Regions from separate parts of the Homo sapiens genome. Here region 2 is linked to region 1. The links come from fine-mapping of genetic effects on gene expression. A gene starts in region 1. The other region holds a variant in brackets. All regions are shown on one strand. Distances are from middle to middle. Region 1 holds the start of GGA3 (golgi associated, gamma adaptin ear containing, ARF binding protein 3). Region 2 overlaps GGA3 (golgi associated, gamma adaptin ear containing, ARF binding protein 3).

What was found. PIP is the estimated chance that this variant, and not a neighbour inherited with it, causes the effect.
Region 2: its variant is fine-mapped to the expression of GGA3 in whole blood (TOPMed, PIP 0.98).

What each region holds. Positions count from the first base shown.
Region 1 is chr17:75,260,308-75,263,308 of GRCh38, reverse strand. It overlaps GGA3 (golgi associated, gamma adaptin ear containing, ARF binding protein 3), which reads left to right and starts at 1,703. Exons shown (of 17, transcript NM_138619.4): 1 at 1,703-1,761. The coding sequence starts at 1,722. MRPS7 (mitochondrial ribosomal protein S7) reads right to left here and starts at 1,430. Exons shown (of 5, transcript NM_015971.4): 1 at 1,326-1,430; 2 at 621-812; 3 at 442-505. The coding sequence starts at 1,408. RefSeq lists enhancers at 644-1,521, 1,318-1,727, 2,198-2,297.
Region 2 is chr17:75,238,661-75,241,160 of GRCh38, reverse strand. It overlaps GGA3 (golgi associated, gamma adaptin ear containing, ARF binding protein 3), which reads left to right. Exons shown (of 17, transcript NM_138619.4): 11 at 104-349; 12 at 749-819; 13 at 1,053-1,372; 14 at 1,590-1,786; 15 at 2,078-2,247; 16 at 2,399-2,500. Among named protein-coding and RNA genes, the nearest start is that of GGA3, 22 kb to the left of the region's middle. RefSeq lists a silencer at 219-513. The variant T/C (reference allele first, on the strand shown) is at 1,118.

The sequences.
Region 1 (3,001 bases):
CAGGCTCCCTAAAGGGTTTACCCAGCCAAGCTAGTACCTTGCCCTTTACTCCCATCCTCTGGTTCTGCGCTGGCAATGCAGCTCCTCTCACAGCACATCCAAAACAAAGTTTTTAAGTGCCTCCCCCTTTGCTAGACTAGGACAGAAAGAGTGGATTGAGATTTGTGGCATGGAGGGGGTGGGGGGTGAGGTGGGGAATGGCAGTTGTTTTATTTTTTATTTGTTCCTTTTTTTTTAATTGTGTGTTTACTTCCGAAACACCAAGGAATGGCAGTTGCTGACTCTTACAGGGCTTCATTAAAGCCCGTACACATGCAGGGAAGTTAATCTGAATAATAGATACATGAATCCATTTGCTCTTAAGCTACACTGAAAGTACCAAGTACAAGGCTACGGGGTAGGGGGGCAAGAAAGATGACTGAGGAGGGAAGTGCTGTTTACCTGAATCATGAGGGATCTGGCCAGTACTTTGTTTCCTCCTATCATCATCATGTTGGTGAATTTACTTCAAAGAGAAAAGCAACACGTTTAGCTCTCCAAGGCTGTATCACAGAATCCTCACCAGAAACCCTCCCTGGGATAGTCCCAGTCCATGTAACAAGTGTTTGTTTCCATCTAACCTGATGACTGGGTCTTCAAACACAGAACTTGTTTTCCCTGCTGGAGCAGCTTTGATGAGCTGAGTCTTCTTGAGCTCCCGAACATATTTCTCCTCCTCAGTTAGCTCCTCCACTGGCTTGCGATAATATTCCTTGTCAATCAAGGGATCCTTGAATTCAGGACTATAGCGGCTCCATCTCACCTGAGTTAGCCTGGGAGGGGGGGAAAGGAGGAGGCAGGCAAAAGCTGACTCCACAAGCGAGTAGGTTTGACTTAACAATAGGCATGACTGCCAACGCGCCGACGAGGGGGAGCGGCGCGGAGACCGCGAGCTAAACCTGAGCCACAACAATTCAGGCCCTTGTCCCAAGTAGGAGGACATTCCCCAAGCAGGCGGGTAAAGTCTCCTCCTGGTCAAGTGCTAACGGTAAGGATGGGCTTGGCGCCTACACACCCATCCCAATTCACAGGCGATCCCAGATCTGAGCTCTTTAGCTGAACCGCACTTTCAGCTCCGCGTTAGAACCCTAGATCAGCCAGACTCCTTAGGCGAGAGGTAGTCACTAAACCTTCGGATTGGCGCAGGGTCACGCAGCTAACTTAGAAGCTTGAATCCAGATACTCCGGCCCCCAGGGCAATGCTCTCTCTAGGGGCCCACGCGGCCTGCCTGTGGCCCCCTTCCTTCCTCGCAGCGCCCCCCCGCCGCTGCTCGCCACCCTCTCACCCTGGAAGCTGCAAGACAGCCCGCCGCACGCCCAACGCCAGGCCCGACCATCCTCGGGCAACCTTCACTGCGGGGGCAGCCATCTTGGCTGGCCACGAGGACCCCACAAGGACTGCCCTCGGCGCGCCTGAGCGAGTGACGGGAAACGGGTGAAAAAGACTCCTCAGGGTCCTAAATCTGCGTTTCTCTCCACTGATCTGGACGTTAGAGTTTTTCACTCCGGGGTCCAAAGGGGAGCGCCAAAAGGAAACCCTTGCCCTCCCTGTATCCGTCGCAGTCTGGCGCGGCCCTCGGTGACGGCACTCACTCCTCTCAGGACCCCATGCAGGCCCCGCCCCGTCTCAGCTCGTGCAGACTCTCGCGAGTTTTGAAGCCGCGGGGCCGGGCGGCTGCAATATGGCGGAGGCGGAAGGGGAAAGCCTGGAGTCCTGGCTCAGTGAGTAGCCGCGGCCGTTTCTGCCTGCCCTCGAGCCGCTGGGCTGCCCCTGTCTTCACCCCCACGTCCCCTCCCCGGGCTCCACGGCGTCGCCTCTTGGCAGCCCACGCCCGGTCTCGCCCTCGCCGCGAGCAGCCTGCGATCACGCCCCTTCCCTATCAGGGCGCCGGGCCCCAGTCCGGCCCCCGCTTCCCTCGCTGCGGCGCGTCCTCTTGCTCTGGCGCGCGGCGGCGTGAACTCGGGCTCCTGTCGGGCACCGCAGGCTCGGGGAAAGGCGACAGCCAAGATCTTCGGGCTGACATGCTTCGGCGCTTTGGGGAGATTGTGGTGGGGTCGCCGCCCGGCGGTGACACCAGGAACCCAGCGCCCCAATCCCTGACTAAGGGAGAAGCTTCGGATTGGGGCTGAGTCTCCGGTAGTGGTGGGTGCTGCCGACTGCGTTCAGTCGCCTGGCAGCTTCAGAATTGTGACCATGTGTTGGAGAAGTGACGGCTTCGCTCAGGCAGAATGCTTGAAGTGAGAATAATATTCCAAAGAGAGCGATGATAGAGAACAGAGAGCTCTACCTTTTTCCTGCAGTGACCACAGAAGCATGGTGAAATCGGTGTCGGGAATTCCCCCCCCACACACATACATATACCCCCTTGAATATCCTAACGAGTCAGTGTTGATAGCCTATTCTGAGTAAGGCTGAGGAGCACAGTCTGAAGCTGTAGTTATAGAAGCGTATTGCTGTCATTGCACTGTGAATTACAGTGCTACGAAGGAAATGTGTGTTAACCTGGTTAGCAGGTAGTACTCTGCCTGAGGGTTAATAAGTGAACTTTCCTGTAGGCTAGACCTGGAAGCCTCCTTTAAGTGGAGAGAGAAATTGGACTGGTAATGGGATAGGTGAGATACCTAGTATTGCCTTGTTCTGAGGTCTCTTATTTAGTACTGCTTCCGGGATCTTGGAGGTGATAGCTATTTCCTCAAATTGTCTGATTTTTCCTAGTAAGAAACCCCCTTCAGGAGGTTGAGCTTCAGTTTAAAGGGGAGCATATCCCAAAAGAGAGAAAAAGTAAGATCACGTTTGCAAAATCTGCAGTTGCAGGCAGGTCATAAGGCTTCTTTATATATGGAAGTGTTCTCCAAGGAGCTCAAAGTACTTTACAGATATTCATTAAATTAGTTTACCAAGTATTCTAGCAAAGCAGGCACTACTGCCATAATTTCACAAAAAGAGGACATCCTGACTCCA
Region 2 (2,500 bases), 22 kb after region 1:
CAGAGGCTGTAGCAGTGACCTCTGTGCCTAGGGTGCTGCCTCCTGCCACACAGCCACTAGAAGACCCCTAATTATTCCTGTTCTGCTCTGTTGACCCATCCAGGAAACAGTCAGTGCAGTAACCAAGGCACGCTCATCGACCTTGCGGAGCTGGACACGACCAACAGTTTGTCCTCCGTGTTGGCCCCAGCACCTACTCCACCCTCCTCAGGCATCCCAATCCTCCCTCCACCACCCCAGGCCTCAGGACCTCCACGGAGCCGCTCCTCTAGCCAGGCCGAGGCCACCCTGGGGCCCAGCAGCACAAGCAACGCCCTCTCCTGGCTGGACGAGGAGCTACTCTGCTTGGGTGCGGCCCACAGGGGGCGTCAGGGGCATCCCCTGACAGGGCTCTGGGAGGAAGGGTGTGTGGAATTAGGAGCCCTGAGCGGGGCCCCAGTGTGACTGTTGGGGTGGGCAAAGAACCCTGAGTTGGAGGTACTCAGTGAAGTTCAGCGACCCTGAGGGCCCCAGGGCCATCCTCCCGGTGGACTCTGCCTCCTGCCCTGCACCCCGCCCCACAGGCCCCCCGCTTCTGCATCATGGACTGGAGCGCTCCATTCCCCTCTGGAGGCTGCCTGCAGAACAGCTTCTCCCGGCGCCTTCACCCATTGATGTCACTTGTCACCTGACCCCTCCTCAGGCAAGGCGGGGCTAGGGCTGCCTAGCTCAGAGCCTCTTCTCATCCTGTTTTCTTCTCTATTGTCAGGCCTCGCCGACCCAGCCCCTAATGTTCCTCCCAAAGAGTCAGCTGGGAACAGCCAGTGGCACCTGCTCCAGGTAGGGGCACAGGATCGGTGACAGCACTACTGTGCCAAGGACCTCCACTTTCCAGCGTCATGTCTCCTGGGCTGCAGTTAGCTGTCCTTCCCTCCAGAGCGTGCCAGCTGCAGCGGGGAACAATGAGTGCCTCCGGGGCTGTCTTCCGTGCAGTCCTTGGAGGGCTGCGCCCCGTTCCAGCGGCAGGCCCTCCCCACCCGCCCTCGGCTCACCACCCTTTCTGTTGTTCATAGAGGGAACAGTCCGACCTGGACTTCTTCAGCCCCAGGCCGGGGACCGCTGCCTGTGGCGCCTCCGA[T/C]GCTCCTCTGCTCCAGCCCTCAGCCCCCTCCTCAAGCAGCTCCCAAGCTCCACTGCCGCCTCCCTTCCCAGCTCCTGTGGTCCCAGCCAGTGTTCCTGCCCCCAGTGCGGGCTCCTCCTTGTTTTCTACTGGAGTGGCCCCAGCCTTGGCCCCAAAAGTTGAGCCCGCAGTCCCTGGGCACCATGGCTTGGCGTTGGGCAACAGCGCGCTGCACCACCTGGATGCCCTCGATCAGCTTCTAGAAGAGGCCAAAGTGTAATGAGTGGGAGGAGATGTGGGGTTGCTGAGGGTTGGGCCTGAATGTGTCAGAACCAGAGCTAACTTTGAAGGGGTGGGGGTGCCTTGTAGTCCCATCAGTCAGGCTGGAAGGCAAGGGGTGGGCCTGGGTAAGAGCATGGTCAGGGGCCTTGGGTGAGAGTCCTGCAGCTCTGGCTGGCTCTCTGACGTGCTTTCCATCCTTCCCACCTCCCAGGACCTCGGGCTTGGTGAAACCCACTACCTCCCCTCTCATCCCCACCACCACCCCAGCCAGGCCCCTCCTGCCCTTCTCCACGGGGCCCGGCAGCCCGCTCTTCCAGCCACTGAGTTTCCAGTCCCAGGGCAGCCCCCCGAAGGGGCCTGAGCTCTCCCTGGCCAGCATCCACGTGCCCCTGGAATCGATCAAGCCTAGTAGGTGTTGGAGGATTGAGGTGGGTGGGGCGGTGGGGCCTATAGCCACGGAGCTGTAGGACATGCGACAGGGATGGATCCAGGCACTCTTTGCAGGGGGTCCCTTAAAGCCAGGCAGGCCTCCCTGCCTGCATTCTCAGTCTTAAGCTCCTCACTGAGCGCCTCTCCCAGATTCCGTTAGGAAGCACTGGACTCATCATGACCACGGAGTAGCCCTTTTCTCCTCACCGCCGGGGCTCTGTTGGGTGTCTCTGGTGCTGCTCCTCCCACACTCACGTCACGTTCTTACAGGCAGTGCCCTTCCTGTGACAGCCTACGATAAAAACGGCTTCCGCATCCTCTTCCACTTTGCCAAGGAGTGTCCCCCAGGACGACCTGACGTGCTGGTGGTGGTGGTGTCCATGCTGAACACGGCTCCCTTACCTGTCAAGAGCATCGTGCTGCAGGCTGCAGTGCCCAAGGTACCAGTGTCTCCCTGGGGCCAAAACGGCCTTATCTTGACCCTGTTGTGTAGAGGCCTTTGCAGCCAGCAGGTGGCAGTGTGTGTGTGCACTGCAGGTTCCATCTGGGGGCACCTACCAGTTCTCTTCAAAGGAGTTTCTCTCTCTTTAGTCAATGAAAGTGAAGTTGCAGCCACCTTCTGGGACAGAACTCTCTCCATTTAGCCCCATCCAGCCACCTGCAGCCATCACCCAGGTCATGTTGCTGGCCAAT